Homo sapiens: one gene and its partners. The protein of the gene in region 1 purifies or fractionates together with the protein of each later gene. This does not show direct contact. Each region holds a gene or a part of one and is shown on either strand. Other genes may lie near its edges. The genes, in order: DPF3, PHF10, DNAJB4, CSNK2A2, DCX, SS18 and PFKL.

Region 1 (4,206 bases):
CTCCACTGAAGGAAAACTAAGAAGTTGTTACCATCAGATTTACTCTAAAAGAATGGCTAAAGAAAGTACTACATCAGAAAGTAAATGCTAAAAGAAGGAATCTTGGAACTTCAGTAAGTAAGAAAAACAACGAAGGAGTAAAAATATGAGTAAATACAATAAACGCTTCTCTTACGTTTTCTAAATTATGTTTGATGGTTGAAGTAAAAATTATAACACTGGTATGGTTTTCAATGTATGTAAAGGAAATGCTTAAGACAACTATATTATAAAGGGAGGAGGGTAAAAGGATTTAAATAATGAGTGTTGGGTGGTAATAGAATAGTTTTGTATCTTGATTGTAGAAGTGGTTACACAAATCTAGACATGTGATAAAATGGCATAAAGCTACATATACACATTTTACCAATGTCAGTTTTTTGGTTTTGATATTGTAAGATGTATTAATCTTGGAGGAAATTGGATGAAGAAGATAGGGGATCTCTATTATATTTGCAACTGCAAATTGCAAATACAGTCACAATTGCAATTATTAATTATTTCAAGATAAAAGTTGATTTAATAAAGAAGAAATTATATGAATCCCCTCCCCACTCAAAAAGCAAACCCTGATAAGTGAAAGCAAAATGAAACAAATAAATCCAACTGTGTATTGAGTTAGTGGCACAATCACACAGAGGAACTATCTCAGTGACCTTAAAGGAGAGTAATTTGGCTGCACATGTTTAATGGAATATACCCTAAGGACAAAAAGACTTGCAAAAAAAAGAAAATATCTTAAACCTTTTTCAGTAATCTTATTGTTAATAGTCATATTGTTTGTTCTGATACTGTGTGTGAGTGTCTGTGTGTGTGTGTGTGTGTGTGTGTGTGTGTGTGTGTGTAAAATAAAGCAAATAAGTAATTACATCAATATCATTTCTAGGATTTTTTGGTGTAGGAGAAAGGAGATACAGAATTAAGATACTTAAGTAAAAACTGTTTAAATCTAAATTGAATGGGATGTATCAACATAATTTCATAATGTATTTTCTCTTAAAAAGAAAAAGAAAAAAACAAATGAATACTATTTCTTAGTTCTAGTCACTGATAAGGCCTAGAAACAATGACCAAGCCAGGAGCAATGAACAGCACTGCGGTCTCTAAGTAACTTTTCCTACAAACAGGAGCCAGGATTTCTTCAAGAAATAGCTGATTTCAGTCCTGGAGAGGAGGAAGTGTACAGGATGAGCTTGAAATATTTCATCCTAATATTAGGATGGCAAGAAGGCCATCAGAAACTACTGGGGTTGTTTCAAAACACCAGCACTGGGCCGGGCACGGTGGCTTACGCCTGTAATCCCAGAACTTTGGGAGGCCGAGGCAGGCGGATCATGAGGTCAAGAGATCAAGACAATCCTGGCCAACATGGTGAAACCCCATCTCTGCTAAAAATACAAAAATTAGCTGGGTGTGGTGGCATGTGCCTGTAGTCCCAGCTACTCGGGAGGCTGAGGCAGGAGAATCGCTTGAACCCGGGAGGCAGAGGTTGCAGTGAGCCGAGATCATGCCACTGCACTCCAGCCTGGCTACTGAGTGAGACTCCATCTCAAAAAAAAAAAAAAAAAAAAACACATCAGCACTGGCCAGAATCCTGAATGGCCAGAGATGAGGCAAGATAAGCCTCATAAGAATAATAGCTACACTGGATTAAAATACATCAAATATGTTTAAATCTGTGAGTTCCTGGTGGTATTCAAAAAAATAATTATTATTATATTGATCGTCTTTGGAGAATGCTAGGGAACCAACTCATTATTTTGAAAACTGGTAAATAGAGGGGAAAAAAGTCATTTATCCTGCCTTTCATATGTGAACTGTATCTCACAATAACTAAAATTTTAATGAGGGAATGTTTTTCTTTATAGAAGTTGTAGAGCTAACAAATGAAGATATAATGATAGTCCTGGATTGAATATTAACTTTTTGCAACCCTTAATGGGATAAAGAATCTAGGCAATTATCATGAAGGGCTGCTAACATCAGTAAAAGAGGTAACCAGACTGTATGAGCCTCTTGATGAAAGTACACACTACCACTCAGGAGTTGTTCTTACCAAAAAAAAATGGAACCTGAATAAATCTCTAGACCTAACTACCAATTCACAGTAATAACACCATGGGAACGCAACCAAATCCTTCTGGGAAACCCTACAGCGTAAGCAACCCAGTGTCTTCAACAAGTAACATGCAAGGAGGAAAGAGAGAGAGGCAGAGACAGAGAGAAACCCAGAGATGTTAAAAGACACATTAACCAGTTGCAATGTAGGGTTCCCATTTGGATCCTGATTTAAACTACAGGGGGAAAAATGAATGTTGGCCAAATATTTGATGATATTAAAGTCTTATTGCTAATTATTTGAGCTCTGATAGTGATTGTGAGTGTGTTTGTTTGTTTAAGTTCTTTACCATTTAGAGATACATAACAAAATATTTACAGATGAAATCACGTGCTTTTGTGGATTTGCTTCAAAATAAAATGAGGTCAGGGAGAAAAGTAAGGAGTGCGTATAGATGAAACACGATTGACCATGAGTTGAACATTGTTGAAGCAGGGCTACATGGGGATGTGTTTTACTATTGTCTTCAGTTTTATATGAAGGTGAAATTTTTCCAAATGAAACATTTTTAAAAACATATCCAGGCAGAGCCAGAAAAATCACATTCCTGTAGCTGTCTCCCTAATAAAAAGGTCTTTATTCTGTTCTTTGCAGCCTAGAAGACTAGTGTCACTGTAGCTGTAGTAATAACAGTAATATCAATAATAATAGGCCAGGTGCAGTGGCTCACGCCTGTAATCCCAGCACTATGGGAGGCCCAGGCAGGCAGATCATGAGATCAGGAGTTCGAGACAGCCTGACCAACATGGTGAAACCCCGTCTCTACTAAAAATACAAAAACTAGCTGGGTGTGGTGGCGCACGCCTGTAATCCCAGCGACTCAGGAGGCTGAAGCATGAGAATCACTTGAACCCGGGAGGCGGTGAGTCGAGATCGCACCACTGCACTCCAGCCTGGGCAACACAGCAAGAGTCCATCTCAAAAAAAAAAAAATAACAATAATAATAATAATACCCAGCATTTTGGAAGCACATACTTGCTATGTGCTAAACTCATTTAAGAGTTTTTATAAATTTTCTCATTTAATTCAGACGAAATCTTATGTGGTAAGTACTATTATTATTCACATTTTACAGATGAGGAACCTGAGGGACAGAAGTTTGGTGACAAAGGTAAGCCTCACACCCAGATCTAATGGCAGATTTCCGGCTTGTAACCAACACCCAAAGGTAAAAGATGAAGATTGCTGTCATGTCCTCAGTCTTGCCTTCTTTGGGATAAACACCTTTAGCTCTTTCACTCCCCACCCCACCCCACCCCTGCCACATGGCTTCAATGCCCCACACCATCCTTGTCACATTCCTTGAAACACCTGCCAGGAGCCATAAAAGTAGCTGAGCTTCTTTAAGGTATCTCAGAGGCCCATGTGCAGCTTGCCCCACCCCGATCCTACCCAGGCTGCCTGGTTTCCCAGACAAGCTGCGGTCCTCCTCCCTCCAGGCTGGGAGCCTGCACATGCGCATGTCCCAGGAGTGGCGCAGCTCACCTGGGCCTCGGTGCCTCTTCTCCATCCAGATGTAGCAGTTGTTCTGGGCCACCCCAGTCTGTGAGTCCAGGAAGGGAAGACGCACGCTGCGCTCTGCACACAGCCGTGAGTTGTAACTCCGGCAGTGCTCAATGGCTTCCTTGTAGAACTGGTCCCCGAGCCTGCCAGAGTCAGAGAGTGAAGGGGTGAGGCCAGGGAAGACTGAAACACACCCAGAGGGAAACACACCCAGAGGGAAACACACCTCCCTGGAAAGACTGAAGACCTCCCAGTTATGAAGACCAAGGCAATGAGCACCAAGAGCCTTGCCAATGAGCAGAATGCAACTCAATGTCAGGTCTTGACTAGATTTTATTTTCTATCCCAAATCCACCAGGCAACTTAGAAACTCCTTTAACAAAGAGCATGGGCTTCCAAGGATGAATCACCAGTAAGAGAGAGCTGTCCATGTTCTAGGAAGCATGAGGTCCCACTCCAGAAGGGAAGTAGCTCTGGAACAACCTTCTGCATGGAATCTAGAGGACATCACACTTCTAGAACCTCCTCACTCATATTAGCTACA
Region 2 (4,206 bases), on another chromosome or scaffold:
AAACTTTACTATTAAACTAATCTCCTGTATGTATATTTTTATACCCTGCTCCCCCCAACAAAAGGATAGTGTCACATGCTCAAACCATTTAAGTCTTGCAGTGTAGTTACCCTCTGTTGTTACTGCTACATTCTAAACATAAGGTTCTCATTGTGTGTTCCTATACCTAAATAAAAAACAGCTAGGAAGTGCACTTCTATAATCCAAATTCTGGTTCAGTTATGATCATATCTGTACCTGCCATAATATACAGCAGAATGCTCTCTCTTAATCCATCAAAACTAAGAAATCTCTTGGTTATGGTACCTGTACTAAATGTAAAAGATATACTTATTTAATACTAATAGTTTAAGTTAGATACTGGCATAGTAAATACTCTAATATCTTTCACTAAAGTCAGGGAAGTAACCAAACAATATTAAATTCTAAAAACAGAACTCCTCACAGGAGATTCTTTACAAAACAAAAGCCAAAAGGAGTAAAACACAAGGGTAGTCATTCACATTCTAGAGCAATTCAAGTTCTACAATCATTAAAATATACATTAAACACCTATGATAAAAGGGACACCAAAAAATTCTAGGTTTATTTCTAAGTTTAAATCATAATGATTTGTTAAATCACTTAGTTTTTCTTACCCAACAGCCTTCATCTTGATGAAAAGAGGGAAACATGAGAGAAGGGGAAGAGAGACAGCTTTGTAGCATTTTCTACGATGAATGCTGCAGCTCGATATACAAAGCATCTGCCCTCTCTAAGAAGCCACAGTGCTGGCATCCAGGACTTTACACAGCAGATAACAACTGTGGCTTAGAGAAGCCAGTCTCAAGTGGATTGCACAGTTGAGGGAGGGGTTAATGTGCAGCACTCTCCACAAGACCAATGGAGCACACTCCTATGTGTGTCTGGTTTAGACAATCAGTTCTACTTCAAATAACTGCAACATCATCAGAGTATCACTATTGACAAGAAAACTGAAATACTCATCCTAATAGCTCTCAGCATCTCAAATAAAAGGCTCACAGTACACTTACTTTTCTACTTGAAAAACAGCCAAAGATAAGACTTTCATGGTAGCAATAATATAGTATAGATTTTAATTATTGTATTTATAGGCCGGAATCCTAATAATTATGCTTTAAATTTCAGGTTAATGTAACCTAAACAATACTGTTCTATGAATTAAGGGCAAGCACTAGTGAATCTTATTAAGCAAAGCATCAGATACATTACTTCCTTGAATCTCGTACTTTTTATATATAAACTATGACCTTTAGCTTGAAGTACCCTAATATTTAGGCACATCTTGGTTTATTAATACTTTTTATAAAGAGGTTAACTTTTAATAAGCATGTTCACATTAATGTATGATGACTAGATACTGGTTGTTCCCATCTTTGAAATACCTGAAACATTTTTAGGTACTAAAAATGTTCACAGATTATGTAAAATATAAATTTTGCATATCCTACTTGAGTACTATTAAGTTCAGTTAATCCATATGATTTCTTGTATACTAAATCAATGATAGTGTTGAATAGCTGATTTCCAGCCTGTATTAAAACATCTATTTCAATATTCTCTCTTTTTAACCCATGATCAATCAAGCTTACTGTTGCAAAGATCTACTTAGCACTCAAGAGTTAACAGGACACTGTGCTTTGAGCGGCCACTTCCATTTAAAGCTCTTAGCAGACCAGTAGAACACACTCATTCATGTATACTGCTTCTGAAATTTCATCTTTGGAGCTCACTTGCTTTCAGTTATTAAGCATTAATTTATATAAAGAAATTACATAAGCTATATATGTAAAAACAAGTACAAAAATCACATAGCTGCAGCCTATTGCAGCCACCCTTGGAAGCCAACCCTTGCTGAATTAAGCTTAAAATTTGCTTGCTATAGGCTACAAAAAAAAAAAAGAATTTTTAAGTTAATTACATAAAAGCATTTCCTAATAAAATATGAAATACACTAACTTAATGTCGCTTTTTTTACTTGAAGAAAGGTAAATGAACATGTTAGAACGTGTTCTAGTTAGTTTGAGGGAAAGGTGACTTACTTCAGCCTGTTCTTGTGAATTATTTACCACAATCACAGTTCTGACATACAAGGTGTTTAACAATTTCACTTGGCAAAACTTTCTCATCAGCTTACTCTAAAATTTTCCTTCAATACACCTTCATAAGTGCAATAAAAGCATGTTCTAATACATTTCAGACCAAAAGAATCAAAAGGTAGTCTATTTTACTACCACCATCCCAAATATGAAACTGTACAGCTAATTCTTCCTTTTATGATATTCTTAAATCCCTATATGCAAATAAGGCTACTCATCTCTCACCTCACCTTTTCTTCAGAAGAAAAGGGAGGGGCAGACAGAGGGAGGAAAAGTTCAAAATATAATAATAGTTGCTGACAACCTACTCCTTTACTCTGAGGATAATCAGATCAACAAGTTAACAAGTATGTTTTAATTCTTGCCATAGAATCATATAGGCTCTTTACCAAGGTTATGCTAAAAATCACTACAATGTAAGTAACAGGTTTTATTATTTTCTATCCCAGAGTTAGCTAAATTTAGCATATGGATCAAATAATCCTTAGATTAAACCCAGATCTTTCTTAATGAAAGGCACTAAAAAAAATGCAACTTAGTCTAACAGTATATCCACTCATACTTTATAGCTCAGCAGCTTTAGCTACACTAAATGCTGGGGCATTTAAAATGCCAAATAATTATGATCTTTACTCCAAGGAAAGAAAATATAAACTTCTGCCTATGAAATAATGTTTTAAAAACCCATACTTGCCTGGTTATTCTTTCAAAGAAAAAAAAAGACTTATAAATTGTACATATACAGAAAACAGAAGGTAAACCATAGCCAAAAGTGACAGAAAAGCCACCAAGGAAATAAAGCAAAAAAGAAAGCAGCGGACAAAGGGCACACCATAGAAGAACAGCTAGTGAGGTACAGCAGGCAGAAGCTCCACAATCGTGAAAGTCAAGTTAAAATATTTCAGGGAGAGGCTGGTCAGTAAAGAAGCTGAGTCAGGGGCTTTTTTCTTCTACCTTGTACCCAGGAACTGACTTGGACAGTACAGAACGTTTGGGACCATCTTTTCTTGGAGTGGCAGCTTTGTCTTTTGATTTCTGTCTTCCCTGGAAAGAGTCCTCCTGGCTGTCAGGAGGGCTTTCCCCTTCAGATACATTGCCAGAGGAGCTGTCCTGGAGTTTAAAAGGCAAAAACAAAGATTCTTTGGAATTAAGACAAATTTGAGTCTGGATTTTGAAAACTATGGAAAATATTCAAAGAAAGTTTTAAAGCTTTATCATTTTAAAAATAAAAAGATCATTCTAAATGTAAGAAAGCTTTTTCCAGTGGAGACTAAAGTAAGTTATGTTAAAAATCATTCCTCCTTCTTCTAAGTATATTATATAAAACTGATTCCATATCAGTGCCTTCATCAACTTTGTTTTCTGACATAAGTCACAAAAACACAATTATCCGCTTCAGCTACTATTACGGCACACAGCTTCAACATCATTTTCCGTCACAAGGGAACATATTTGTTTCATACAAAAATATATTGTTACAAATAAGTGTGGGTATTTTCACTGAGTACTAAAAGTCATTAAGAAGGTCCTTCAGGAAAAATGAAGCGCTGCAGTTAGGAAAAAAAAAAAAAAGTCCTTCAAGTACACATTTGTGTTTTCACAATGTTAAACTATGCAGAGCCAATCCCTCAACTATCTACAACAGGATCTGAAATATTTTATATATTCAAGGTTTAAGACCTCAGTATCTGATCATTTAATTCTTCATTTTATAATTTAAAATGTTCTAATTAGAACTTTCATATAAATTACAAAAATTATAAATTAAAAAATTAGGTTATCTAGAGCCTCCCTGATAAACACACACTGACTAGAAACATGAATGTATCTACTTTATCTTTTTTCTGGGTGTCCACTTATATACATAAAGATACCGAGACTCACACATTACCCCCTACCTCATTGTGCCCTCATTTTTTAAAATACAAAACTGGATTACACTGTGTGTGTATGCATATGTGTATTTTGGTATTTTTTAAAAGCATTATGTGCATTTTCTCACAATCATTAAATATTCTTTGAACTGCATTTCTATCCTATAAATGTAATATAATATTACCCACTGTGGGCATTAAAATTTATTTGT
Region 3 (3,500 bases), on another chromosome or scaffold:
TACAGCTCAAGTATACAAGATAATAATAGAGCAAACTGGGCCAGGTGCGGTGGCTCATGCCTATAGTCCCAGCACTTTGGGAGGCCGAGGTGGGCGGATTACTTGAGGTCAAGAGTTCAAGACGAGCCTGGCCAACATGGTGAAAACCTATCGCTACTAAAAATATGAAAATCAGCTGGGCATGGTGGCGGGCACCTGTAATCCCAGCTACTCAGGAACCTGAGGCAGGAGAATTACTTGAACCTGGGAGGTGGAGGCTGCAGTACTAGCTGAGATTGTGCCACTGCACTCCAGCATGGGTGACAGAGCGAGACTCCATCTCAAAAAAATAATAATAATAATAATAGAGCAAACTTGGGGAAGTGCATATACATTTTATGGGTAGACATCAGATTTAAAATGACTTATTTTAAGCTAAAGAGTTTGGACTTTATGGTAGAGGTTATATAGAGCAATTTAAGAATTTGAAGCAGGGAACTGCTATGACCATATTTGCAAAGTTACAATCCAATTTGAGAAATAGTACAAATAGGCCAGGCGTGGTGGCTCATGCCTGTAATCCTAGCACTTTGGGAGGCCAAGGCAAGTGGATCACCTGAGGTCAGGAATTCAAGACCAGCCTGGCCAACATGGTAAAACCCTGTGTCTACTAAAAATACAAAAATTAGCCAGGTGTGGTGGGGGGCGCCTGTAATCCCAGCTACTTAGGAGGCCGAGGCAAGAGAATCACTTGAACCCGGAGGCAGAGGTTGCAGTGAGCCGAGATTGCGCTGTGGGTGACAGAGCAAGACTCTGTCTCAAAAAAAAAAAAGAAATAGTGCAAATAAGAACTCAAATAATAATTGTATTAACATAGTAGCATTATAATTTATAAATGTATATATTTATATGCACTTATAAATGTATTTTTTATTAATATAAATGTATACAAATTTGTAGTGAATTATAAATTATTTTCTTCTAATCTTTTTTGGTATGCAATTATTACTCCATATTAACAAATTTAGAACAAACCCTATATACAAAGACTAATGTGTTGAGATTACCAATGCAGATCTCATAAACCACATTTGTAAAAGCAGCCTCATAGTACATAATCCAGTTAACACTTGACACTTTAATTATAAGTAACTAAAGTTAGAAAATATAATCACATCCATAAAAGAGGTATAATACTAGTACTATCTTAGAGGATTTTTATAGTAATTATTTTTAACGTATAATAGGCATTAAATAAATGTTAGCTATTATCTAGATACACTCCCTATGATCAACTACATAATTATTTGGTCTTAGGATTTTAGGTCCTACCAACTTACCTCTCGTAAACTAATTTTAGCAGTATAAATTATATTTGATCCATCCCTTTTAAATTTTGGATGATCTTTGTCTTTAATGATAAAAACAATGTCTGCTGGAATACTATTTGGTGTTTCATCTCCTTCTCTTGGAAAAGTAATTTTGGTGCCTTCTTTCCACCCTTTTTTAATCTCAATGGTAAGAATTTTGTCCTCAGATCTGTAACTCCTTCCATCAGCGTTTAGCCTTTTTCGAGAAATCTTCATCCGTTTGGTACAACCACTATATATCTCTTCAAGTGATACTCTAAGTTCATGAATAACTGGAGGATCTTGTTTGAGGCGGGATGGCCCCACAGAATTCCTGTCTCTTGGATATCCATTCATGCTGAAACCAAAGGCACTAAAAGGATCACCATCTATTTCCATTTCTTCAGAATCTCTACCACCACCCATTCGTCTTCCAAAGAAAATTTCAAAGGGGTTGGACCCTCCGAAAAATGCAGCAAATGTAGCATGAGGATCGCCATGAAAGGTGTACCGGAAGGTACCTCCTTGTCCATCAGTACCTCCTGCTCCTCCTTTCAACCCTAATTGAAGAGATAAGCATGATTAGAAAAAAGCTTGCAACTCTTAAAAGTTAAACTTTCAAAAACTGTATTGCTAATAAATTTTGGCTAACTTACATTAAAATGTATTAATATTGGCCAGAAATGCCACTTTACTAAATACAGAACAGCTATAAAACTCTTGATGATTACATCCTAAGTTAAATTGTTAAGTTTTCAAATTCTTCCTCCAAATCAGCATTTTTGTTTGTTTGTGTTTTTGAGACAGAGTTTCGCTCTTGTTTGCCCAGGCTGGAGTGCAATGGCGCAATCTTGGCTCACCGCAACCTCCGCCTCCCAGGTTCAAACAATTCTCCTGCCTCAGCCTCCCGAGTAGCTGGGATTACAGGCATGTGCCACCACGCCCGGCTAATTTTGTATTTTTAGTAGAGACGAGGTTTCTTCATGTTGGTCAGGCTGGTCTCGAACTCCCAACCTCAGGTGATCTGCCTGCCTTGGCCTCCCAAAGTGCTGAAATTACAAGTGTGAGCCACTGCTTCCGGCCAAATCAGCATCTCTAATATTTATTCCTGATTCTTTGTTCCACGGGTAAGTAAGAAAAATAAAATAAGGCCGGGCGCAGAGGCTCATGCCTGTAATCCCAACACTTTGGGAGGCCGAGGCAAGCAGATCATGAGGTCAGGAGTTTGAGACCAGCCTGGCCAACACAGTGAAACCCCGCCTCCACTAAAAATACAAAAAATTAGCCAGGTGTGGTGGCAGGTGCCTGTAATACTAGCTACTCAGGAGGCTGAGGCAGGAGAATCACTTGAACCTGGGAGGCAGAAGTTGCAGCGAGCTGAGATCGCACCACTGCACACCAGCCCGGGCAACAGTGTGAGACTCTGTCTCAAAAAAAAAAAAAAAAAAAAAGAAAAGAAAAGAAAAAGAAAATAAAACTGGGAACTCCTTATAAACTACTGATCTGGCATGCTGAAGTATATAAATTATATAAGTATCTACTTATAAATATATAAGTTTTTAAAAGATGTCAGTTGGAAGGTCTTCAGCAATCAACACAAAGTGCAGAACTTAAATCTTTAATTTTTATTACAATCAAACAATATATATAACATTTAAAAATATAAATATATTAATAAAATATATAGCAAAATATAAAATACCATATTCATACTGTTTATATATAAATAAAATAGAAATATGTAAAAATATAATGTAATAAAAATACCATATTCATTCTAACTAGTTTTATTTCAGATCATCTTTTACTGTTTAGGAATTAAAATAGGGCCAGGTGCAGTGGCTCACACCTGTAATCCCAGCACTTTGGGAGGCCGAGTCGGGTGGATCACTTGAGATCAGGAGTTCGAGACCAGCCTGGTCTACATGGTGAAACCCCGTCTCTACTATAAATACAAAATTAGCTGGGCATGGTGGCACATGCCTATAATCCCAGCTACTTGGGAGGCTGAGGCAGGAGAATCGCTTGAACCTGGGAGGCAGAGGTTACAGTGAGCCAAGACTGCACCATTGCACTCCGGCCTGGGCAACAGGAGCAAAACTCCATCTCAAAAAAAAAAAAAAAAGAATTAAAATAGAACTCTGTGTCAGAGAGTGAAAAAAATTCTAATAA
Region 4 (4,206 bases), on another chromosome or scaffold:
CTGAGCACAGAACACACCATGAGCCCGTGAGGACACTGCACCAAGGAATCAGAAGACTTCCACACCACTAAACCTCTAGGAACGAGATACAAACCCAGGTCCAGGGCAGGCAGACAGACCCAAGGACAAGAAGTTCACATGAATGCAAATTTCCAAACGGCCTTTAAAATAATACAACTTACGATAATAATCTTCTAGAGGTGGACCAGTACAGGGCATCACAATCTAATGACTAAAATCTAGTTTTATTAGACAAGGAGGTGCCTGACTTCTTCACAGATTCACTTTGGAAGTTTGGCATAGATGGCATTATCTGCCTCTACTTCTGCGGACCTGGTAAACACAAAATTCTGTGCGATCTTTATCTTGAAGAAAAGCTCATATGCAGACACTGAGTGATACTTAGTGGCTCAAGGATAGTATTCTTATCTAAGGATGCTATTTTTTTGGCATTCACCCCCAAATAAATAAGAACCAGAAAGCATTTGCTCACCTGGTCATAGTTGTCCTGTCCATGGAAGAATGGTTCCCTTCGAAAGATCATGCTTGCTAACATACAGCCCAAACTCCACATGTCCAAGCTATAATCATACATCTGAGGCAATAAGGACAACGCATTAGCCAAGGGTATTAGAAATCCATTTTTCTGATATAAATTTCTTTTTTAGACGAGATTGGGCGTGTTCAGGGTGGTATGGCCATAGATAATTTATTTAAAAAAAATTTTTTTTAACTTCCTGGCTCCTAGAAATGATCTGAATTTCTAGTCTTCATTTAACCTTTGCAGATATTTTAGATTTAAAAACTTCTCTGTCCCCCCAAAAAACTAGCTGAGAAAAAACTAAAATCAGCATTTTAGGGTGAAATAATGGCTGGGTTTTGAGTGTATTCAAACTGACTAGATCAACAGCAAACCAGAAAAGCCCTAAGCAAGTATAAATAACCCAGAATAGCTCTGCTAACAAGTTTACCTGATAGTCCACGAGGAGCTCTGGTCCCTTGAAGTACCTTGAGGCTACACGAACATTGTACTCCTGAGCAGGATGATAGAATTCTGCCAGACCCCAATCTATCAGTCGCAGCTACAAATAGGACAGAAAAAAACATGTGAAAGGAGTGTTTCTAGACGCCTATGCCTTAGAACAAGGCCACATCACATTAGGTAACAATCATTTGGCCACACAAAAAATGTGAGCAGGTGCACTGGCTTAAAAATTACATTTTCAGCAATCGTGCAAGAGGTCATTTTTAGAGCAGAACACTTGAAATGCTTTTTGAAAAAATTTTAAATTATCCTGGTTCATCCCTCTCTCTAGATCAACAGAGCTCAACCTTTTTTTCTGCCCACATTCAGAAACTGTAGGCAGTTACACTTGGTAACACATTCTCCCATCATTCATAGCTTTTCGTTATAAGCTCCAGGCGTCAGTGAAAGGGCTGGGGACACACATCCCACTCCAGGACTGAAGCATTGCTCTAATGATTTATTCGTCTAATACTAGATGATCCATTTACTCACTGATTAGGGCCAACAGAGTTGGATATCAAAAATAGGAGGGACCCAAGTGTTCTTTTAAGGCCAGGCAGATTGGTCTGCGGGTCATCAAGAAATGAAGCAGAAACCACCAGCTGTAATTTCTTTCTGAGGCCCTCCAGAAAACTATGACCAAAATAAACAAGTGACTATAGTTAGTTACTATAGTTAAACCGTCTACTTTCCTTGTGTACTACACTATACAAAGTAGAAATCAACAATGGAGATGGGAGAAATCACAGTAACGAAAGTTTGCCAAAAAACCCACCACGGGTCTACAGAAACCATCATGGCACTGGACAGCTTTTTGGTCTGCTCTAAGCCTTTTAATCAAGCTTGTTGCTGCCTGGCTGTAATGGTACCTTTTTCTGTTGGTGATCTATCATGACATTGTGAGGTTTCACATCCCTGTGCATGATTCCCTTGCTGTGGCAGTAATCCAGAGCCTATTAGGTAAGAAAGCACAGATAATAGTAAGCAACCCCTCTACCATCCCCCAACGCAAGCATAGTCTTATTGTTTGTGACACCTTGACTTGAATACAGTCCCCCAACGGGCAGCTTGCTGCCTGTAATGAAAGAGAAAAAAAGCGTGCTTCAGAAGGCACCCCTTGCTCTCTCTGCACACTACAGCTGGTAGAAAGGGGGTATGAAGGGAATGGCAAGGGCTATGAGGAAGATTTCTTTTTTTTTTTTTTGAGATGGAGTCTTGCTCTGTCGCCCAGGCTGGAGTGCAGTGGTGCAATCTCGGCTCACTGCAAGCTCTGCCTCCCGGGTTCACGCCCTTCTCCTGCCTCAGCCTCCCGAGTAGCTAGGACTACAAGTGCCTGCCACTACGCCCAGCTAATTTTCTGTATTTTTAGTAGAGACAGGGTTTCACCGTGTTAGCCAGGATGGTTTCAATCTCCTGACCTCGTGATCCGCCAGCCTCGGCCTCCCAAGGTACTGGGATTACAGGTGTGAGCCACTGTGCCCAGCCGAGGAAGATTTCTTTAAAAGAGGGGGTGATGAGGCCAGGCACAGTGACTCATGCCTGTAATCCTAGCACTTTGGGAGGCCGAGGCAGGTGGATCACTTGAGGTCAGGAGTTCGAGACTAGCCTGGGCAACACGGCTATACTAAAAATACAAAAGTTAGCTGGGCGTGGTGGTGCGTGCCTGTAATCCCAGCCACTCGACTGGGCTGAGGCTGGAGAACTGCTTGAACCTGGGAGGTGGAGGCTGCAGTGAGCTGAGATGGTGCCACTGCACTCCAGCCTGGGCAAGAAAGGCGGGCAGTGGGGAGGGGGGTGTGTGTGTGGGATGATAAACCAGACTTTGGAACCTCACTGGAGTCACCTCTCATAATGGTTCAAAGGACAGACCAGCATCTATGTGGACATGAAGAATGACATTCAAATACATCTTTCAGTATGGCTTATTTTGTACATAAGGGTCCCACGTGGGTTTTCTAGATGACCAAGTATTAGTATTTTCCTTAATATAATCCCTGAGCCAGCTAGCCTTTAAGACTTATCATTATAAGGCCAGGCATGGTGCTCATGCCTGTAATCCCAGAACTTTCGGAGGCAGGCAGATCACTTCAGGTCAGGAGTTCAAGACCAGCCTGGCCAACATGGCGAAACTCCACCTCTACTAAAAATACAAAAAATTAGCCAGGCAAGGTGGTGGGCACCTCTAGTCCCAGCTACTTGTGGGGCTAAGGCACGAGAATTGCCTGAACCTGAGAGGCGGAGGTTGCAGTGAGCCGAGATGGCACCATTGCACTTCAGCCTGGGCAACAAAGCGGGTCTCAAAAAAAAAACAATTATCATTACATATTATTCCAAGGGAGAAAATTGCTTTGTTTAAGATGATTGATATGCAGATAAGATTTTATGTATATAATGGTTTTTCACAAATTTAAAAAGCTGTGCAACCATTACCACAATCCAGTTTTAGAACATCTCCATCACTCCTAAAATTTTTCTTGAGCTTGTCTGTAGTCAATCCCCTTTCCTAACTTCTCCCAACCCCTCCGTGCCCTGCCCACAACCACTGACCTGCTATTTGCTGGTATAGATTTGCCTTTTCTGTACATTCATAATATGAAATCATACATGTATAGTGCTTTGTCTACCTTCTTTCCTTCAGTATACTGTTTCTGAGATTCATCCAAGTTGTTTTTCCTTGCTGAGTAGTATTCCACTACTAGCTGATGGACATTTGGGTTGTTTCCACTCATGCTTTCATTTCCCTTGGGTAGATTCCTAGGGGTGGAAGTGCTGGGTTGTATGCTAAATTTGTGTTTAAACTTTTAAGAAACTGCCTAATTATCTTCCAAAGTGGCTGCGTCACTTTTACTCCCACCAGCAACCTGAGGGTTCAAGTTTCTCCACATTCTCATCAACACCTGTCATTGTTCAACTTTTTGATTATAGCTTTGCTGGTGGGTGTAAAGTGGTATCTCCATGTGGTTTTGATTTTTATTTCCATAATGAGTGATGAAGTGGAACTTCTTTTTATGTGTCTACCGGCCATTCTAAATCTTCTTTGGAGAAATGCTGATTCAAATCTTTCAATCATTTATTAGATTGTTAAGCTCCATTTTTTTAATGTAAAAATTTGCTTCTAAATCTCCCTTGCCTAACATAATAACTATCTTCATAAACTTCAAATTCAGGACCTTTGGCTA
Region 5 (4,206 bases), on another chromosome or scaffold:
ACTAGGTAGAGAAACTGTCTAAATAACAACCAGTACATATAAACACCTTAGCTTTTGCTTGAAAAATACTCTCATGTTTCTACCACTCACCCTTCATCTTTCCATCCTCTCAAAGGATGCACATAAGATCTGTGTATTCAGGGTCATCTTCACCAGTGCTCACCCTTGGCTGCCACAAGTAATGAGGTAAAGAAGTGAGAATACATTATACAGCCTGATTTATGGATTGGAAGGATCTAGTGTAATTTTCACATTTACCTTGGGCTAGAGGAAATGACTAATATCGCAAAAGAAATGCAGGGATCAGAGGCAAGAGGAGGGGACTGGACACCTGGGACTATGAGCTGAAGAAAATAGGAAGAGAGATAGGCTCAGCCTGGGGAAGAGAATACTGGAAAAGGTTGAATTCGTTGAGTAAAACACATTAGCCTCAAGGTATCTAGAAGTTCATTGAGAGGTTGAGCTGCAGAAACAGTGTGATTTAATCAGGCTTAAGTCATCGGTAATAACCCTAAATAAATAAATAAACCCTAGCCAGTGCACAGAAAGCATTAAACACAATTATAGTCTGATGGCTCTCCTTTGGTCTCAGCAGGAGAACTGCATTCAGAAACACCAGGTTGATAATTCACTCCCTTTGCAAATATTTATTGCTTTGCCATAGCACCAAATCCTTTAAGACATGTTAATGAATAAATTTCTCAGTAATGCTAAGAGAAGTTTCAGTCAAAATCTCTAGTGTACCTTTGAGGACATTTATGTGTGTGTGTATGTGTGTGTGTGTGTGCGTGGTGTGTGTGTGTGTGTGTGTGTGTGTGTGTGTGTGTGTGCGGAGGGGGAGGGTAAGTGGCATCCAACATAAGCAAAGTGACTTCCAAAGCTGCCCTCAGTCCCAGAGTTCTATCTTGACAGGGGGACAAAGGGATGGTTTTAAGTGAGGATAGGCACCCTTACCCACTTGGTGCATACATGGACACCCAGGATGAGATGGTCAATACCTCAGCCAAGAGAAGCTCTGATTTCTTTGACTCCCTTGCTGGTTAATTCAACCCAACCCAAGTAATTATAGGCTGGGGTCTTTAATTTTTGACTTAAAAGGATGAAGGAAGGGGCCCTTTTAGTGTCTCCATATATTCACAGCCAATAACCCCCATAACCCTAGAAATGGTCTCTTGACTTAGCAGTTCACCAGATTCACTGGCACCTTGCAGGAGGTCACTGCCTTTGAGTCAGATGTTTTCCATAACTTGTCATGTACTTTAAAACTGTCAGACAAATGGTGGTGTGGAAATGTGTGAAGCTATATATTTATGATTTCACTCATCCAGTCTCCTCTGGAGAGTCAGCTGTGTAGCCCTATTAGGACTTTGGACTTTTTTGCTCCCATCTCTTAAACCTCTTAAGCCTCTGGAGTATGAGTATGATTAACCGTCTCCAGATGAAAATGAACATGATGACTGACAGCTATAGTATCATATAGCACCCAAGAACTTTCCAGAGGGCCCAGCCTCAGCCAAATCTATGTTGAGCACCTTCCAGTGGTACATTTTAGTCACTCCACTCTCTCGTTGGGCTGAATATGGAGTAATGGAAAAAGCGCAGCTGATGTGATGTCAGTCAGGATGGGGTCCCCAACACTTCCTAGTTGTGCACTCTAACCTCCCTTGGCTTCAGTTTCTTCTTTGCAAAGCAAGGGTGATAATAAGAATACCTATCTTGTGGGGTTGTTGTGGGGCACAAATCAGATGATGGATAAAAAGTGTTCAACCCATGGCCAGGTGCGACGGCTCATGCCTGTCATCCTGACACTTTGGGAGGCTGAGGCAGGTGGATCGCTTGAGATCAGAAGTTCAAGAGCAGCCTGGACAACATGGTGAAACCCCATCTCTACTAAAAATACAAAAATTAGCTGGGCGTGGTGGCACATGCCTATAATCCCAGCTACTAGGGAGGCTGAGGAAGGAGAATCGCTTGAACCTGGGAGGCAGAGGGTGCAGTGAGCTGAGATCGCACCACTGCACTCTACCCTGGGTGACGGAGAGAGTGAGATTCCGTCTTAAAATAAAATAAAATAAAATAAAATAAAATAAAATAAAATAAAATGCTGATCCCAGAGCCTGGAACATAGTAAGCACTTGATAAATTTCTGTTATTATTAAGCCCCTAATCTTACGGAATAGAAGCGAGAACAAGAAGGAAAGAGCAAAGAGGAAAAGAGGAAAAAATTGCTGAGAGAAAGAGACTAAAAAGAGGAATAGAAGCTGAAGAGGAAAAAAAAGAGAAAGTATCAAGGGCAACCATCTAGGAACTGAGCTGTGATTATGATATGACATGAGCACTGCTGGGGGCCTGTGATTCAAGGATAAGATTTCCTGCTGGTTGGAAGGAGGCTTCCAGTTGTGGCAAATGCCAAATGTAGGAGATTTATGCTAACACCCAGTAAAGCTGCTGCTGCCTCTGCAGAGGCCCGCTGAGAGCAGGATATTTATCGTCGTCAAGAGTGATGACTTAGGAGTCACACAGACCTGGATTCAAATCTCAACTAGGCACTTAAAAGCTGTGTGACCTCAGGGAAATCACTTAATGTCTCTGAGTCTCAGCTTTGCCTTCTCTAAAGCAAAGATAATGCACTAGGTGACACCTGAGTCCCTTCTAGGTCCTAGAGTCTATAGGGAGGAATCTTCTCTTTTCCTTCTCAAACAGGCTTCAGAAAACAAAGCTGTTAGGATAATTAAATGTTAAGAAAATAGCTGCCCACCTCCAAGGACTCTTCACTTCTGCTAGAAAGACATCAAATGCTCTTCTTTGCTAGACTAAGACTTCCTTGTCCTGATTTTGCCAGCATTTTCAATGTCTGCTGCCAGAGCTCAGTGCCTCCTGCACTTCCTGCTGCCTGGCACTTGGAGCTGGATGAGGTGTGTCGCACCTTTACACAGTTGGGTTCCCATCCTGCCACAGCTTCCAAGGGCTATTTCCTACCAGCTGGGGGCCTAGAGGGAAAGCTGGCTTCACAGCCAAGCAGGGTGCAAATTCGCTGGAACTAAAAACCTGCTTTAGGGTGAGGGGATAAGGAATGAAATCATGGAAGCACAGCTGAAAGGGCAGAAATGAAACAAGCTGTGGGCTGGAGATGATCTAATGTCTACCTCCCTTCTCTTTAAGAAGGCTGCATTTTCAAAAGCATTTTATATATATTTGTATCTTCTCAGTGCAAAAGCAAGCTTCTGCCTGGGTTTTCTCCTCTTCTCCAGGGCTTCCTGACTCAAGAAGGAATATATTAAATGACACTTTACTGTATTATATTAAAATATTAAATGACATTTGATTATCATATCTATTAGCAATGCATCCCTCCCAGGTATCTTAAAATTCTTGTGTTTGACAATGTACTTGCTTTAGTAGTTAGAGAATAAATTAGTGAGAAGGTGGATTCATCTCAATGAAACATATGAGCTATGGTAAAAGAACTGGATCATAGCCAGTGTGACTACACAGCTCGGATTTTCTAAGACTGTTCCAATTGTAAATATTCTGTCCCATGGTCTGTGTAATAACTCTTGAACTTGTCTCAATTTGGGTTCAGAAAAGCTGGCTAGTCATAAATGATATCCCCAAGGTTGATCTGGATACTTACATACAAGAAAATGGGGAAAGAATTGGACCAGATATAAAGGGAAAGAGAAAGATTCTAAAAAAAATAAATAAAATAAAAAAATAATAAAAAAAACAAAGACATGACAAAAGGAAAACCCACCAGTGGATTTTATTCATTGACCTCCTTGGGATACAGCTAATGAGGACCATATCCTACATGGCTTCACTAAGACCCTCGGTGTACCCAAGGACTGTGGGAAAACTGACATCAATAACCTTTGATCCAAAATGCTTCCCTTGATACTTTCTGTATCTAGCAGAAAACCGTAGACAAGAGGCACTAGACAAAGGAGTGTCACAAGGCCAGAGTGATTATTAACCAATTATTTTTAAATTTCATTTATTTTTAGGCTAAAAATGTAATAATGTGGCCATTTGAAAACACAGTGTGTTCTATGCTCTATTATTCCTTTAAGATGTAAAAAGAAAAAAATTAAAACAGATTTCTGCACGTCTCAAAACTCCTACCACTTTAGTTAGGTGAATGGAACCATCAAGATCACCCAGTCTAATACTTCCCAAGTCTAAGTGCTCATAAAAGTCATGTGAGGA
Region 6 (4,206 bases), on another chromosome or scaffold:
CAAATAAAGAAAATATAAGTTACTGGCCTTCCAATTTCTCCTACACTTAACTGTAACTCCGTAACTATTGTTAGGAGAAATTCTTTCTGTTTTTTTTTTTTTTGTTTTTTTTTTTTGATGGAGTCTCACTCTGTCGCCAGGCTGGGGTGCAGTGGCGTGATTTCGGCTCACTGCAACCTCCGCCTCCTGGGTTCAAGTGATTCTCCTGCCTCAGCCTCCTGAGTAGCTGGGATTACAGACGTGCAATACCACGTCCAGCTAATTTTTTGTATTTTTAGTAGAGACGGGATTTCATCATGTTGGCCAGGATGGTCTCAATCTCTTGACCTCGTGATCCACCCGCCTTGGCCTCCCAAAGTGCTGGGATTACAGGCGTGAGCCACCGCGCCTGGCCTGGAGAAATTCTTAACTATTGTTTCGGAAGCTCTATAGTATTCTGAACAACCCAGGTCATAAGTGGTTGATAATAACTAGCTTATAAAAGAATATACTTCAGAAGGCCTTACACAAAACCAAAATGTCATGTTAACCATAACTGTACTGCTGCTCAAATGCTTCTTTGGCCTTAGGCTTCAATGTTACACAGAGAATTTAAGTCAAAATCCTAATTCAAAGTACCATCATAAAAAGTCACAAAACTCCTAACTAGCTAACCTGCACTATCACTACCTTTCCAGTTCTAAAAACAGTGTGTCCTGGTGAACTAAATGTGGACTTGGCAAGAAGCTTTCTCTTGACTACAATATGACTACAAACTGAAAAGCAGTGATGTCTTTATTCCTACCTCCATACTGGATGTGTGCCATATATGTTGCAAGCCTTAGCAGGAAATAGGAGACAGCCACTGAAACACCACTGCCCTCCTATATGATCAGTCACACCTCAATCTTCTATAAGCCAGGCTACCTTACCTCTTTTGCTCTGTGCTCTCTTGTTTCCTTACTGCACCCATCATCCTTGGACACCAATGCTATCAATCAACACAATCGGCTACAGAAAACAGTATCCTAAAGATGCCAATTACTAATTTTAATAATTGTTCTGTTATTTTATTTCCATTACTGCTAGTTGTATAATGTCTTCTTTATCAATGAAAATAACTTTTGTCTTAGAAGGTAAAAATATTCTGATACCTAATGTAGATAATATTCTACCAAAAATTACGGCCATGGGTTGATGCTACTGTTACAAAAACAAAATAGTGTAAAGATACTTGTATGATTAAAATTTCAAACCAGCCAAAGGTAACTAAATCAGCATCCAATGTCTTAAAACATATCAACCTAGTGACCCTACACTTAAAATTGACAAATAGAAAAGAGAATGGCTCAGTGTATAAATAATGTAAGGAAGTTTACATTATTTTTCAGCCTTTAATTTTTGCTTTAAAATCAATTCCAATATTTATGTTATGCTATAAACCTATGTATTAAAAAAATTTAGATTCAGCTTCAATATCAATAAGGAAATACTAAATACACCAGCACTTCAGAGACTGTTTTCTTTCCCCATGTGTTTTTCCCAGTGATACTGTTTCTGAGATCAATCAATATTTAAGTAAATAAAAACTCAGGGAAATGTTATAATATCTTTTTTAAACAGACTTTAATTCTTAAGCCATGGTGCAACGCCTTTTTTTCCAAAAAGCTTCTAAAGCCAACTGTATTGCAGTTTCAGACAGACTAAATTTAGCCAGTTCTGTTCATCAGAGGAATGGTGTGTGTCAGCTACATCAAAGCCCAAGGGCAGCCTGATAAACACTGAATACAGGTCACGTAGCTCTGTAGCTAACAAACTCTAAGAGAGCTTGTACTCGGGGGCATTCAAAGCAGTTTTGTCATCAACAATCTAGTATCCCTTGAGCCCCCATGTCGTTTCAGTTGCTAAGCAACTCTGGTGTTAATGTCTTAGAGGAGAAAAACTTACCAGGCATCTGGCCGTTCATCTGGTTCTGCATGTGCGGTGCAGGAGGACCCCCACCTACCATTCCATCTGAAGGCATGTTGTGAGAGCGTGGAGGTGGGGGAGGGCCGCTCTGATTCATCCCTCCAGGACCCATAGGCATATTCTGTGTGGGTGGCTGAAAGAAGACAGTTTAGTAAAACAAGAGAAACAGACTAATATACGAAAGATGCATAGGGTAAAAGAGTTGCTTATGTTACTAAATTGCAGTAAGAACAAAAACACAAATGCATTTCGAATTCTTCTAATGCATTTTCATCATGAACATAGTTAATAACCCCCAAAACTTTAAAGCATATTTACTTTATAAAATCTCAGTAGTGAAAATTAAAATGTTAACATTCTATACAAAAAATTCTCATTTATTTATATATTAAGCATTTCTAATGTGTCTATTATTATCTAAATTATGTGAAAAAAATTAAATGTCCTTTCATTATTGATGTATTGGATACACTTATTAATGATGGATTTTACCTAAAAATGTACAGTAACAAAAAATGATGAAAGGACTCTAAGTCCCAAAATGTGCCATATTTTACACTATTTCGGGGTGGAGGATAGTGGCAGCAGAGGAATGTTTTAAAACATGAAGACAACAGTTCAACATTTTTGTGCCGACTACTGCTATAGATTGGAAACATTACTGATGGCCTCCAAGGGTACAGAGACAGCTGCCTCAAAAGGATGCCCTTGGCAAATTTCCTAATGCAATTTTGAAGAAAACCACTGACTAACCTTCAGAGTTCACAAAAGGGCAAAAGGAAAAACAGATATGAGGTGGTCTGCCACACCTGGGTCCCTTCTTAGGGATATTTTGGTGGAGAAAGCAAACGGTTAGTTTCGCTCCAATCCCCCATTTTTAATCTTGTAGGAGGAGAGGGAGGCATTATTCTTTACTTCGATGTTCTAAATGTAATGTCCATTCCTGTATTATCAGTTGTTCTCTTCCTCCTACATTTAAAAATGGCCAGTTACTGTATGCCTTTCCATTTTGTGAACACAATTCTCTTTGGCACACTTAATAGATACACATTGTTATTTGGCCATCACATTTAAATACTCAAACCTCCAAACAGTTAATAATCACTAACATTTACAGAAATAAACAAGTCTACTCTAATAGCACACATTTTAAAATCAGAATTTTAATTTCTTCACAACTAAATCCAGATGAATGCTCTTATTTTCTCTTAAATTCTCATATTATTTCTCCAACTTGTATTCTTTAAACACTTAAAAACCTTGTTCAGTTTTCACCAAAACAAACAAAAAAACAAACAAAAAACACTAATTTGAGTCATATTATCTAACTTTTAATCATCCTTATTTATCATCCTTCAAACCTGGCTACCTTAACCCTCTTCTGTCTGAAAACAGAAATCCTCCTTCCTCTATTCTTGTCCAAATTTTCTGTTAAAAATTCATGTTCTCACTCTTAATAGTGAGGTCATTTTCTTGTAATTCAACTAATAAAACATCATTACTGTTACCACCATGCTAGAATAACTTGTATCAAACTAACCCTCAGCTAAATAAAACTCATAAAATCTAGACAAAAAGTAAAAACTGTTTGAAGCCACTAAAGAGTGACTTACACAAAGAGGAACAGAAGGGGCTACAACTCCTGAAAGAACGGAAGCATATAAGACCAGCTCCACAATTATCTTGGCTTTTTCCTTGAGTTTGCTGAGTAACAGGGAAATACAGCTCAAGTAGAAAGTGCAGTCCAATTGGACTAAGGAAAAAAAAGAGTCAGAATTTTTGACTATCAAAGAGCTGGAAACTAAAGAATAAATTTCCAGAGAGAAAGGACCACAAGAGGGGAAACATTCAAGAAAACTAGTCGAAATAGCAGGTAGGAGGCTAAAGAGCTCAGCAGAGATTCCAGCTGCTGCTCACTGATATGGAGACAAAGACTGGAGTGTAGGCCCCACCAAGTTAGAGGAGCCTTCATAAATAACTCCAACTCTCTGTTGAGACTACAGAAGGGCCAGCTACTCCTTAAGAGTAAGGTCGAAATTGAAATAGATCAGCCCTAAAAAGTCTTATAACCAACCTTTAATAGATTCAAGGTAACCTCCTAGTACTTCACATACCAAAGGAAAACTTAATTCTCTTTGGAGCAAAGTAACACAAACTAGAGCTTCTATAATTGTTCAACCACAAGGTCTAACACTCTTAAAAATTGCAAGGCTTTCTAAAAAACAAAAATAAATGACCAACACCCACTTTGATAGCTGC
Region 7 (4,527 bases), on another chromosome or scaffold:
TGGGCCTGGCCCCAGGATGGCCCAGCTCAGAATGAACTAGAAGGCCACTAGGTGTGGGCCCCTCCACCCCAGCTCGAGTTAAGCAATCTGGAGGCCTCCGGCACTAGGGCCAACACAGTGAGGGGCTCTTGGGAATATCAAGGTGCCCGAGGGCAAGAGGGTCCCCAGCCCCTTCACCAGGTCCCTAGGCCACCCCACTGGCCTGAGCTCAACCAGGAGACTGCCCAGGGGCCCTCAAAGTGGCCCTTAGGCCCCTCCAAGCCAGGGTCTCCCTTGAGACACCTCCTGTGTCCCAAAACCACATCCCCAGGGTGGCACTGCGGGCAGGAAGCAGCCCTCTTGGGCAAGCACCTCCCACGTTCATGATGCAGAGCGCAGGCTTCGACGCTGAGGTTAACAGGCATCCTGCAAGCAGGGCGTCCACCACCCCGTAGCCGCCTGCAGGACTCAGCCCTAGCCCCTGGTGGGCGCAGCTCTGCGCTGCCTTCTTTTCCCCTCTTGCGTGTCCACCATCAATGTCTCCTGGATACTGGCTCAAGCCAGCCACCAGCCTGCAGGTTGGAGACCCCCACTCAGGCTGAGGTTGGGGAGACAGAGGAGTGAGGCTGTACCCTTCTGCCCCCAGGGGAGGACCAGGAGGGGCTCAGGTCACCCTGGTGGCCCCCAGGGAGTCCTGGAGAGCACCTGTGGCCTCTCAGGGCACATGTCCCTTTGACCTGGCCCAGGCACTGGCCAGAGGGCCCTCCACCCCTGGGGCTGCTGCCCACTGGGCTGGCCGCTCGGTGCTGCTCCCCCCTCTCTCTGAGGAGTTCTGCAGGCTGTGCTCTCCGGAGACCGATGCACCCCACAGTCAGGGTGATTTTATTTCTAGAAAAGGTGACAGGTGCTGCACGTGGGCAGGAGCAGGTCACAGTGAGGCAGGGCCAGGGGCATCCCCCTCTCAACACAACCTAGGCGCCAGCAGCCTACCGGCCAGGTAGAGCAAGGGCTGGCCCATGTAGTGAGCCCAGCATGGGGAGACGCTGAGGGCCCATGGGGCGCCAAAGCCAGGGGGCAGCAGCCTCCAAACACCGACAGCGCCACGTCCCCTGGGCAGGAAGGTGGATGCCCCAGGGCACTCTGTCCTCCTGCTGGAGGGCCTGGCAGGCTGGTCTCAAGACACCAGCCCGAGGGAGGCCTGGCAGGTGGCCAGGGATAGAGGCAGGGGATGGGCTGAGCAGGGACGCAGCCCCCACCTGCCTGCAGGCTCCAGACACAACAGCCCAGGCCCCATCTGAGCCCTGGCGCTGCGCTGGCATGGGTGGGGGCTGGGGAGGGGCGTGGGCATGGCTGGCCTCAGAAGCCCTTGTCCATGCTCAGGGTGCGGCGGGTCACGTGCTCCAGCTCCCCTGACACGTAGGCGGCCATACTGATGCGGTATTGTGCCAGCATCTTCAGCATGAGCCGCAGGCTCAGCCACCACTGCTCCCGTGGCATGCGGTGCCTGTGCAGGACGGGGATGGGAGGATGATGGGGAGTCAGGGGTCAGGGCAGCTCTTCAGCCACGTCCCCAGCCCCCCCACCCCCCCCGACCCTGCAGCCTGTGCATGCCCCTCTGTCTGAACATCTCGGTATCCGTGGAGCTGGGACAGGTCTGGGGTCCCCATCCCTCGGAGGCACAGCACAGAGTCAGCCTCAGCCGCCCTCAAGCGTGCCCACTCCTGGCTACCCGCTGTGCCCCCATGCCCACCCGAAAGGATTGCCCAGTGTTGTGCTCAGAAGACTTGGGCATGGTCCCTGCTCTCCACGGCCTGGCGGGGACCTGGGCATGGGGGCCCAGGAGGCCTTGCGGGGTCAGGGTGCCAGTGGGGCTGGGCCTGGCACACCTGCCTCAGGGAAGGTCTGGGCCACCCCTCAGCCCCACCCGCCTCCACGAGGCTTTGGTGGAACTCACTCGAAATCAGTGTCTTTCTTGAGCTCAGTGACGGGGCTGAAGGCCACCGCCTTCTTCTTCAGGCCGATCACGCAGGCCGAGTCTGGGGCATTGGCGAACACCCGTCCTGCAAACAGAGGCACGTGGCAGCCCTCCATGGTGAGGCCCTGCCCCAGGGAGCCAGGGGAGGGCAAAGTGAGGCCTCGGGTCGCACCCACCACCTACCCTTGCGGTAAACCTCGCGCAGCTTCTCCGACAACCACAGCATGGCCTTCACCCCCAGCTTGGTCCCATAGTTCCGGTCAAAGGGGGTTGGAGCGCCACCCTGGAAACAGGTGAGGCCCGGTTCCCTGGACTCCCCTGGGCTGCCTGGGCCAAGGCCAACGCCAGTGCAGACAGGATCCCCACGGGGAGCCTCCCAGGCAGCTTGTGAACACCCATTCCTTCCAACCCGTGCACCGTTCCCGTCTGTTCCCGATCGAGGACCCTGCCTGCTCTCTCCAGCTCCAAGTCCAGGCCAGAAGCTGCCTCCCGAGGCCGGCAGTCGGCTGCCCCTGGCCAAGTCAAGTGACTCCTGGGCCCTGCATCGGCAGCCAGCGGCCCCACCTCGGGCCCCATCACCTCGGGCCCCATGCCCAGCCACCCTGACTCCCCTCCCTGGCTCAGAAAACCCCAGGACGCGGGCTTCCTGCAGGGCCACCATAAGGCAGGGAGCATGCGGGGATCTAGGTGAGGGGTTCGGCGGAAGTGGCCGCGGGAGGCCTGGCAGGGGTGGGGAGCTCGGCTCAGCATGTGAATGCCCTGGCTCGGGCCCCGGCTCCAGCCCCAGCCCCACCCCTTCTTGAAATGAGACCTCACCTAGATACAGGCCTCGGTCCCCTCACTGGGGAAGGGCACACGTGCCCGAGGGCCTGCCGGGAGTGCCCGTGGGTGCCCGTGAGGGCTGGGACCCCTGGGGCCGGGGACAGATGGTGGCAGGAAAGAGGGGCAGGCCTCTCAGAGCCTCACCCCTGCCCCACACCTGCTGCAGGTGGCCCAGGACATTGGTCCTGCAGTCGAAGACGCCCTTGCCCTCTGATGAGTACAGGTTGTACAGGAACTCCGTGGTGTAGTAGTCATGGCACTTCTCGTTCCTGAGAGGGGCAGCAGGGCCTGAGTCGGCGGGAACGAGTTCAGGTCTCCCCCCGATCCTGAGTCCCCGCTGGGCCAGGCCTGGGAGAGGGAGTGGCAGCTCCCAGGAAAGCCGCCCTGGCCCACCCTCTCCAAGGACCCCTCCTGCCTTCTCCTGCCCAGCCGCTCCTCAGCAGCCCCACCCCAGCCCCGAGAGTTGGACGCGCAGCTGTGGCCAGGGACCCACGGCAGCCTCACCGCAGCACCAGGCCCCTCTGAATGTCTGTCTTCATCTTCTCCGTCATGTGCTCCACGTTGACCTGCGGGAGGGGCGGACACGGATGAGCCGGAGGACTGTGGGGAGGGAATTCCAGGCTGACCGGCGATCCGGGGCCAGCAGGAGCACTGGGCTACGCGTCCCACCTGCCCGGGCCCTGCCCTGCGCTGGCCGGCCTGAGTGTCTGGGGCCCAGGCTGGCATGCCGGCAGGTCTGCCGCAGCAGGGGCTGGGCTGGGCTCACCTTTAAGTCGTGGATGTTGAAAGGGTCCTCGAAGACGTAGGCGGCGTCGGCCCCCACAGCAATGCCAGTCACGGTGGCCAGGTAGCCACAGTAACCCCCCATGGTCTCCACGATGAACACACGGCGCTTGGTCCCCGAGGCAGACTGTTTGATGCGGTCACAGCTCTGGGGGACAAGGGGGGGTCGGGGGTCCTCCACGTGCCCACCCTTCCCTGTAGGCCGTCGGCATGGCTACCCTGCAGGGAGCCCTGTGTCTCCAAAGCCAGCCTGGGGCTGACGCACCCAGACAGCCAGCAGCACCAGGCTTGGGCCCACCTCCCACCTGGGCCCCACAGGACCAGGGGTTCTCAACCAGGCGACCCCACCCCCCAGGGCACAGTGGACAGCAGCCTGCACACACACTGGCTGTGAGTGGGCAGGGGTGTCCCTGGCACCCTTGGACAGAGGCCAGGCGCTGCTCTTAGACTACCCAGCACTGGGGCGCAGGGACATTCCCGCCTCAGTCTCCCCATCTGAGCTCATCACAGTAGCGAGGAACAACGCAGGGCCCCCCTGGACCTGGAAGTGGCTATGGCAGGGAGCTGAGCCCCTTCACCCGGGCCTGTGCCCCACAAACCCCAACCCTGGCAGCCCTCCCAGGTGCTCACCACACACTATCCCCTCCAGCAGCCTCCGTAGGCTCAGCCCCACCCCACAAGGGCCTGGGCATGGCAGGCCGGTGTCCAGGAGCCCCGTACCTCCATGGCGGCATTTACAGCAGTGTCGGAGCCCAGGCTGAAGTCGGTGCCAGGGACGTTGTTGCTGATGGTGGCTGGGATGACACACATGACGATGCAGAGCTCCTCGTAGCGCCCGCGAGCCTCCACCAGCTGCAGCACCCCTTCATAGGCCTGCAGCAGTAGGGACGGGGCAGGTCAAGGGCAGCACCGAGGCCAGGGTGGGCCGGGGACAGGCTCTGCCGGCGGCCGCCCAGCCCTGCTCCCTG

What was found.
Region 2: the proteins of DPF3 (region 1) and PHF10 purify together in Homo sapiens (affinity purification with mass spectrometry, with the first as the bait; one large-scale study listed by BioGRID). This does not show direct contact.
Region 3: the proteins of DPF3 (region 1) and DNAJB4 purify together in Homo sapiens (affinity purification with mass spectrometry, with the first as the bait; one study listed by BioGRID). This does not show direct contact.
Region 4: the proteins of DPF3 (region 1) and CSNK2A2 purify together in Homo sapiens (affinity purification with mass spectrometry, with the first as the bait; one study listed by BioGRID). This does not show direct contact.
Region 5: the proteins of DPF3 (region 1) and DCX purify together in Homo sapiens (affinity purification with mass spectrometry; 2 studies listed by BioGRID and IntAct, with this or other methods). This does not show direct contact.
Region 6: the proteins of DPF3 (region 1) and SS18 purify together in Homo sapiens (affinity purification with mass spectrometry; 4 studies listed by BioGRID and IntAct, with this or other methods). This does not show direct contact.
Region 7: the proteins of DPF3 (region 1) and PFKL purify together in Homo sapiens (affinity purification with mass spectrometry, with the first as the bait; one study listed by BioGRID). This does not show direct contact.

What each region holds. Positions count from the first base shown.
Region 1 is NC_000014.9:72,768,089-72,772,294, forward strand, and holds part of DPF3 (zinc finger protein DPF3), read right to left. Parts: intron 3,806-4,206; coding exon 3,645-3,805; intron 1-3,644. UniProt on the Homo sapiens protein: Belongs to the neuron-specific chromatin remodeling complex (nBAF complex).
Region 2 is NC_000006.12:169,707,162-169,711,367, forward strand, and holds part of PHF10 (PHD finger protein 10), read right to left. Parts: intron 3,231-4,206; coding exon 3,075-3,230; intron 1-3,074. UniProt on the Homo sapiens protein: Involved in transcription activity regulation by chromatin remodeling. Belongs to the neural progenitors-specific chromatin remodeling complex (npBAF complex) and is required for the proliferation of neural progenitors.
Region 3 is NC_000001.11:78,011,439-78,014,938, reverse strand, and holds part of DNAJB4 (dnaJ homolog subfamily B member 4), read right to left. Parts: intron 1,889-3,500; coding exon 1,320-1,888; intron 1-1,319. UniProt on the Homo sapiens protein: Probable chaperone. Stimulates ATP hydrolysis and the folding of unfolded proteins mediated by HSPA1A/B (in vitro).
Region 4 is NC_000016.10:58,166,714-58,170,919, forward strand, and holds part of CSNK2A2 (casein kinase II subunit alpha'), read right to left. Parts: exon of another isoform or gene 3,757-4,206; coding exon of another isoform or gene 3,652-3,756; intron 1,981-3,651; coding exon 1,897-1,980; intron 1,083-1,896; coding exon 972-1,082; intron 596-971; coding exon 494-595; intron 1-493.
Region 5 is NC_000023.11:111,401,992-111,406,197, forward strand, and holds part of DCX (neuronal migration protein doublecortin), read right to left. Parts: intron 1-4,206. UniProt on the Homo sapiens protein: Microtubule-associated protein required for initial steps of neuronal dispersion and cortex lamination during cerebral cortex development. May act by competing with the putative neuronal protein kinase DCLK1 in binding to a target protein.
Region 6 is NC_000018.10:26,055,663-26,059,868, forward strand, and holds part of SS18 (protein SSXT), read right to left. Parts: intron 2,081-4,206; coding exon 1,927-2,080; intron 1-1,926. UniProt on the Homo sapiens protein: Appears to function synergistically with RBM14 as a transcriptional coactivator. Isoform 1 and isoform 2 function in nuclear receptor coactivation. Isoform 1 and isoform 2 function in general transcriptional coactivation.
Region 7 is NC_000021.9:44,323,671-44,328,197, reverse strand, and holds the end of PFKL (ATP-dependent 6-phosphofructokinase, liver type), read right to left. Parts: intron 4,433-4,527; coding exon 4,280-4,432; intron 3,708-4,279; coding exon 3,543-3,707; intron 3,343-3,542; coding exon 3,281-3,342; intron 3,046-3,280; coding exon 2,934-3,045; intron 2,238-2,933; coding exon 2,138-2,237; intron 2,040-2,137; coding exon 1,934-2,039; intron 1,484-1,933; coding exon 1,336-1,483; 3' UTR 825-1,335; downstream 1-824. UniProt on the Homo sapiens protein: Catalyzes the phosphorylation of D-fructose 6-phosphate to fructose 1,6-bisphosphate by ATP, the first committing step of glycolysis.